Homo sapiens: one gene and its partner. The protein of the gene in region 2 purifies or fractionates together with the protein of the main gene of each other region. This does not show direct contact. Each region holds a gene or a part of one and is shown on either strand. Other genes may lie near its edges.

What was found.
Region 1: the proteins of TBC1D10B (region 2) and UTP4 purify together in Homo sapiens (co-immunoprecipitation; one large-scale study listed by IntAct). This does not show direct contact.

What each region holds. Positions count from the first base shown.
Region 1 is NC_000016.10:69,135,649-69,139,148, reverse strand, and holds part of UTP4 (U3 small nucleolar RNA-associated protein 4 homolog), read right to left. Parts: intron 2,454-3,500; coding exon 2,262-2,453; intron 1,349-2,261; coding exon 1,264-1,348; intron 1-1,263. UniProt on the Homo sapiens protein: Ribosome biogenesis factor. Involved in nucleolar processing of pre-18S ribosomal RNA. Part of the small subunit (SSU) processome, first precursor of the small eukaryotic ribosomal subunit.
Region 2 is NC_000016.10:30,360,258-30,364,174, reverse strand, and holds part of TBC1D10B (TBC1 domain family member 10B), read left to right. Parts: intron 1-3,847; exon of another isoform or gene 3,848-3,917. UniProt on the Homo sapiens protein: Acts as a GTPase-activating protein for RAB3A, RAB22A, RAB27A, and RAB35. Does not act on RAB2A and RAB6A.

The DNA.
Region 1 (3,500 bases), about 39 Mb from region 2:
AAAAACACAAAAACTAGCCGGGCATGGTGGCACGCACCTGTAGTCCCAGCTACTAGGGAGGCTGAGGCAGGAGAATTGCTTGAACCCAGGAGGCAGAGGTTACATTGAGCCAAAATCACGCCACAGCACTTCAGCCTGGGCGACAAAGCAAGACTCCATCTCAGGAAAAAAAAAAAAAAAAAAAAAAAAAGAGCACCCAAGATATATTAAAAACGAAGCAAGAATCTGATTAGCAGAGGATAAGTATTACTAATGGACACAGAGGACATTTGCTATTCTAGAAGATGGGTCACCAAACTGTGGCCCACAGGCCAAATCAGGCCCACTGCTTGTTTTTGTAAATAAAGTTTTTACTGGAGCACAGCCTGCCCATTAGTTTCAGTATCGTCTATGGCTGCTTTTGCACTACACTGACAGAGTTGGCAGACAATGTAGGTTTGGCAAAGCCTAAAATGTTTACTATCTGGTCCTTTACAGAAACAGTCTGCCAACCCCTGTTCTAAAGGGTCAATGCCAATTCAGCCCAGGTGGAGCCCAAGGATGGGCAACTGTTTATAAACTCCCTCATTCAACTTGAATGCACCAGAAGGATTAAGAACCACAGTTCCTTGGCCAGGGCAAGTGGCTCAGGCCTGTAATCCCAGCACTTGAGGCCAAGGCAGGTGGATCACTTGAGTAAGACCAAGAGTTCGAGACCAGCCTGGCCAACATGGTGAAATCCTGTCTCTACTAAAAATACGAAAATTAGCAGGGCACGATGGCACGTGCCTGGAATCCCAGTCACTTGGGAGGCTGAGGCACCAGAATCACTTGAAGCCGGGAGGCGGAGATTACAGTGAGCCGAGATCATGCCACCGCCACTGCCAGCATGGATGACAGAGTGACACTCTGCCTCCAGAAAAAAAAAAAAAAAGAAAGAAAAGAACCATAGTTCCTAATGACAAAATTGTAGTTCAAGACTTCATGTACGCTTGTTAAAACATCACAAAAGTAAGTGATAACTAACAAATTGACTTCCACAGAAACACTAGCTTTCCAATTTTGGATTTCTGGTTTTCTATATTATTACTTAACCAAGCAGTCACAACTATGCTATACAATGGGTAAAGCCTGGGCTGGGGATGGCTTCTAGCACATACCCTCCCTGTACCCAGTAGAGATAAAATATTACCTGGATTCATGGGAAAATATCCCATCCCCAGTGGCACAGAAACTTAATTTCTTGTTAAGGCTATTTACCGCCCCATGAAAAATGACGCTTACTTTTCTGCCGATCAAAATTTCTTTCAAACTGGATTTTGTCTGGGGTAATTTGAAATAGTTTCACAGATCCATCTTCACAACCAACCTATTTGAGAAAGAGGTAGTAAACAGAAAAAATCAATAGTAAACATTTTATAGGACTAAACACACACACACACCCCCCAACACACACTCTCTCTATTCTCTCTTCCTCCTTAAAGCTATCAGTTGCCGTGAAAAAGAAAAATCATTTGTGAGAGAAAGTACTAGTTATCAAGAAACTAATAGTGTATTCTCAGTAGCCTTCATATCCTAGACAGAAAACAGACTGATATTAAGAGTTCTAATTAGTGGCCCCATTCCTCTGTATGACATGGATTAGAAGTAGGATTTCATAGAATACTTCTGCTAGAGACCCTTGGCCTAAATAAAAGACCTACTAACATTATAACCTAAATGGAAACACCTTCAGATATCGTGCAAATTAGTGCAGATCAAAAATAATCAGACTCATCACAGAATTAAAGATCTGGAAGCACCCACTCTAATGGTAATTATGGGAAGGGGCTCAGTGTGTGGTCATATTTTTGAGAAACACTGGGCTGAAACACAAGTGCACAGGTTAACTTGCTGAAGGGACTCTCAGAACTCTTCATGTACCGATGTGCATTGTGAATTTACAGCAGGATTAAATATGCTGTATTTGTGAAATGAAATTTACCATAAAACACAAAACAAACCAAAACAAAAAAACCTCTACATCTCCAAATTCCACAGAACACAGTTTGGGAAATGTTGAACTGATGTAATCCTCTCATTTCATAAATGAATCAACAAGGTCCAGACTAGTAGCAAAAAGAATGCTGGGGATTTTTAAAATCTTCACTATCAATTCCAATCTTATAGTTGGGGTTGCCACATGCCATAATATATCGTTACTCTCCTATGAGCACAGGGAAGAAAGTCTGAGCAGGCACGAGAGAAATTTTGGTTTGAATTACCAATAGTTGCTTACTAACCAAAAGTTGAGAGCCACTGGGGCTGGCAGCCATGCTCCAAATAGGTCCTCCAAAGGCATCCATAGCATACTTGATGTTTAACGCCTGTAAATCATACTCCATAATCTCGCCATTGAGCCCAGCACTAAAGAGTCGCTGTCCTTCTGCCCAGCACAAAGCTTCTGTAGCCCGAGACTCATGACCTGGGAAAAACTGCAGAAACACCATAACTTCTCAACATTACCACAAATTCATCAGGTACCGGTACTGAGTGGTCACAGGCAACATGGTAAAAACAACTTCCCCATAAATAACTAGTGTGGGGTTTTGTGCTATCAGATCATGCCTAATGACATTTTCATTTTTTCAGCTCAAATTCTAATTACTTTTATACAGTTAAATTTGTTTCTTTTACTAGGACTAGTTCGGCAAAACATTTTCAGCAGAAAAGGTTTGAACTGCATTCCAGCCTGGACGACAGAGTGAGACACTGTCTCTACAAAAAATATAAAAAGTAGCCGGGTGTGGTGGCACACACTTATAGTCCCAGCTACTACGGAGGCTGACGGGGGAGGATTGTTTGAGCCTGGGAGGCGGAGGCTGCAGTGAGCCTTGGCCTCCCAAAGTCCTGGGATTATAGGCGTGAGCCACTGCACCCAACCCAAAAGTTTTCGTAGCTATCAAGGCATTTTATGCTTAGACCTGCTTGACGAAAAAGGAACTAAGTAGGTATAATTTTTCCTATTTCAACTTGAAAAGGCCAAGATATACATGGGTTAAGTAGGTTGCCAAAAGTGCCAAAGTCAATTGCATGAGGCAAATGAAGGTCTCCTTACTCCTAGCTCATATGCTCATATTCTTTCACTTTTTTGTTTTTTGGAGACAGAGTTTCGCTCTTATTGCCCAGGCTGCAGTGCAATGGCGCCATCTCAGCTCACTGCAACCTCCGACTCCCGGGTTCAAGCGATTCCCCTGCCTTAGCATCCTGAGTAGCTGGGATTACAGGCATGTGCCACCACGTCCCGCTATTTTTTTTTGTATTTTTAGTAGAGACGGGGTTTCTCCATGTTGGTCAGGCTGGTCTCGAATTCCCGACCTCAGGTGATCTGCCCACCTTGGCCTCCCAAACTGCTGGGATTACAGCCATGAGTGAGCCACCGCATCAGGCCCACTTTTATTTATTTATTTTTTTTGACACAGGGTCTCATTTTGTCACCCAGACTGGAGTGCAGTGGCACGATCTTGGCTCAATGTAGCCTC
Region 2 (3,917 bases):
GCCACTGCGCCTGGCCAGATGGACTTTTTGTTCTTTCTTTTCTTTTTTTTTTTTTTTGAGATGGAGTTTTGCTCTTGTTGCCGAGGCAGGAGTACAGTGGCACGATCTTGGCTCACTGCAACCTCTGCCTCCTGGATTCAGGTGATTCTCCTGCCTCAGTCTCCCAAGTAGCTGGCATTACAGGTGCGCGCCACCACACCCGGCTAATTTTTGTATTTTTAGTAGAGACGGGGGTTTCACCATGTTAGCCAGGCTGGTCTCGAACTCCTGACCTTAGGTGATTCACCTGCCTTGGCCTCCCAAAGTGCTAGCGTTATAGGCGTGAGCCAACACGGTCAGCCGGACAATTTTTTAAATCAATAATTCATCCTTTAGCAAATATTTATTGAGCATCTGCTATCTACCAGGCACTGTCTAGTCACAAATGATTGCAGTGAACAAAAAACCAAAAACTCCTCTCATGGTGTTTATATTTTAGTGGGGACAAACAATAAATCAGGGAAAGGAAAGTATATTGTATGTGAAATGATGGTAAGCATTAAGGAGGAGGTTATTTTTATTTTTACTTTTATTTGTTTTTTGATAGAGATGGGTTTTCATCATGTTGCCCCGGCTGGTCTTGAACTCCTGGGCTCAAGCGATCCGCCTGCCTTAGCCTCCTTAAGTGCTGGGATTACAGGCGTGAGCCACTGTGCCTGGGCCTAAAGAGGAGTTTAAAGCAAGAGGGAAATAGAGAATGTGAGTGGGGATGGGGTTACAAATGACTTGATCCTGCTTATGTTTTAAAAGGGTCATTCTGGCTACCATGCTGAGAACAGACTATAGGGAGACAAGGACAGAAACGGACCAGTTAGGAGACTTCCTGTAATCCAGGAGAGGGTGAGAGCTAGACCAGCATGGTAGCAGCGGGAGTATGGGGAGAAGTGGTTGGATTCTGGATATATTTTGAAGGTCGAGTCAAAGGGATTTGCCAATGGATTAGACATGCAGTGTGAGAGGAGAGAGGGGAGTAGGGTTTTTGGCCTGAGAAATGAGAAGAATGGAGTTGCTGTTTACTAATACAGATGGGGTAAAGGTAGCTGTGGGGGGCATATCAGGAGCTCAGTTTTGGAACGTTTATTTTTTATTTTTGTTTTTTGAGACGGAGTCTCGCTCTGTCGCCCAGGCTGGAATGCAGTGGCGCCACCTCGGGTCACTGCAACCTCCACCTCCCAGGTTCAAGCAATTCTCCTGCCTCAGCCTCCTGAGTAGCTGGAATTACAGGCACCCGCCACCATGCCTAGCTAAGTTTTGTATTTTTATTAGAGACGGGGTTTTGCCATGTTGGCCAGGCTGGTCTCGAACTCCTGACCTCAAGTGATCTGCTCACCTCGGCCTCCAAAGTGCTGGGATTACAGGTGTGAGTCTCCATGCCCGGCAGGGAACATTAAGTTTAAAATGCTTATTGGACCTCTAGATAGAGATGTAAGTTCAGTGTACAGTATACACAAACCTGGATTTCAGGGCAGATGTTTAAACTGGAGATAAATTGGAAATTAAGAGTCGTCAACTTATAGAGGGACTAAATCTTACCCACGAGACTGGATGAAGTCACAAAGGCAACAAGTGTAGATACAAAAGGAATTGATGCGAAATGTCCAACAATTGAGCCCTGCAGCTCCAATAGTTTGAGAATGGGAAGATGAGAAAGAGCCGGTAAAGGAGACTGGAATGAGAAGCTAGAGGTAGGAGGAGGACCAGGAGCATGTGATTGGGAGCAAAATGTAGTGGGGTTTCAAGCATCAGCTGTGTGAAATGCTGCTGAAGGGTCCAATAAAGTCCAGCCTGAAAATTGACCTCTGGATTGAACACTGGAGAAGTCATTAGTGACCATGTTAAAAACAGTTTTGTGGCTGGGTGCGGTGGCTCACACCTGTAATCCCAGCACTTTGGGAGGCCAAGGCGGGCAGATCATCTGAGGTCAGGAGTTCAAGACCAGCCTGGCCAACATGGTGAAACCCCGTCTCTACTAAAAATATTTTTAAAAGGCCAGGCGTGGTGGCCCACGCCTGTAATCCCAGCACATTGGGAGGCCGAGGCGGGCAGATCATGAGGTCAGGAGTTCGAGACCATCCTGGCTAACACGGTGAAACTCCCGTCTCTACTAAAAAAATACAAAAAATTAGCCAGGCATGGTGGCGGGCGCCTGTAGTTGCAGCTACTCGGGAGGCTGAGGCAGGAGAATGGTGTGAACCCGGGAGGCAGAGCTTGCAGTGAGCCGAGATCGCGCCACTGCACTCCAGCCTGGGCGACAGAGGAGATTCTGTCTCAAAAAAAAAAAAATTAGCTTGGTGTGGTGGCAGGTGCCTGTAATCCCAGTTACTCGGGAGGCTGAGGCAGAGGTTTCAGTGAGCCGAGATCACGCCATTGCACTCCAGCCTGGGCAACAAGAGCGAAACTCTGTCTCAAAGGAAAAAAAAAACAGTTTTGTGGCTGGGCGCGGTGGCTCACGCCTGTAATCCCAGCACTTTGGGAGGCTGAGGCAGGCGGATCACCTGAGGTCAGGAGTTTGAGACCAGCCTGACCAATATGGAGAAACCCCGTCTCTACTAAAAATACAAAATTAGCCGGGCATTTTATAGGGAGGCTGAGGCAGGAGAATTGCGTGAACCTGGGAGACAGAGTTTGCCGTGAGCTGGGATCGCACCATTGCACTGCAGCCTGGGCAACGAGAGTGAAACTGTCTCGAAACAAACAAAAACAGTTTTGTGTGGAGCAGTGGGTGAAACCCTAACTGGAGAATGGGAGAAAAGAAATTGAAGACAGTGAGTCTATAGGTAAGGAAAGAAACAGTGTGGTATTTGGAGGGAAGAGAGGGGTAAAGAGACTTTTTTTTGTTTGTTTTGAGACAGAGCTTGACTGTCGCCCAGGCTGGAGTGCAGTGGTGTGATCTTGGCTCACTGCAACCTCTGCCTCCCAGATTCCCAGATTCAAGTGATTCTCCCACCTCAGCCTCCCAAGTACCTGGGATCACAGGTGCCCGCCACCACACCTGGCTAATTTTTGTATTTTTGGTAGAGACGGGGTTTTGCCATGTTGGCCAGGCTGGTCTCGAACTCCTGACCTCAGGTGATCCACCCACCTTGGCCTCCCAAAGTGCTAGGATTACAGGCGCGAGCTACTGCGCCTGGTGAAGAGACTTTTTTTTTTTTTAAACTCAAATAACAGCATGTGGGTATGCTTGTGGGAACGGTGGAGAGAGAAATTGATAGTGCAGGAGCAAGGGGAGGGTTGTTGGAGTGGTGGCCTGTACACGCGAGAGGGGATGGGATCCTGGGCCCAAGTGGAAAGGAAGTGCTTGCCAGGATCACAGACTCTTCACCCATAGCAACAGGGAGAAGGCAGGGACACGGAAGCAGGCAGGTGGGTGATGGGTGTGGGTGCTTGTGGAAGTTACATATTTATTTTAATATGCATTAGGTAAAATAACCATATCAAACCTGTCATTTCGTGGATGCTTTTGCAAAGTGGAGAAAAAATGTCAACTAAATAGTAGGGTGGTATGCAGATAAAATACAAATGAAGATCACACTTGAATGCCTGGAGTTTTGGGAAAAGCTATTCTGGGAAGTGGTCAGGAGGAGGATGTGTGAGACTGGAGGCAGGGAGAGGATCTGGGAGGTCATTTTTTATGGGCAAGAAATGGAGGTCTGAGCTGCGAATGGCTGTGGAGGTGGAGAGGAGCAGGCAGGAATGGAATTCAGGGTGCAGCGCTGCTTAGGCTTGGAGTAAGGGGCTCTTTTCTGATGTGGGGCTGAGTGAATAGAAGTCCTGGACACGGCAGTGGGGCACCCTCAAGAAGAGCAGATCTAGGGTACAGATTTTATTCTTTTGGATGCAGAGACAGGAGAAAGGGCTGAGGCACAGCTGGCTTCCAA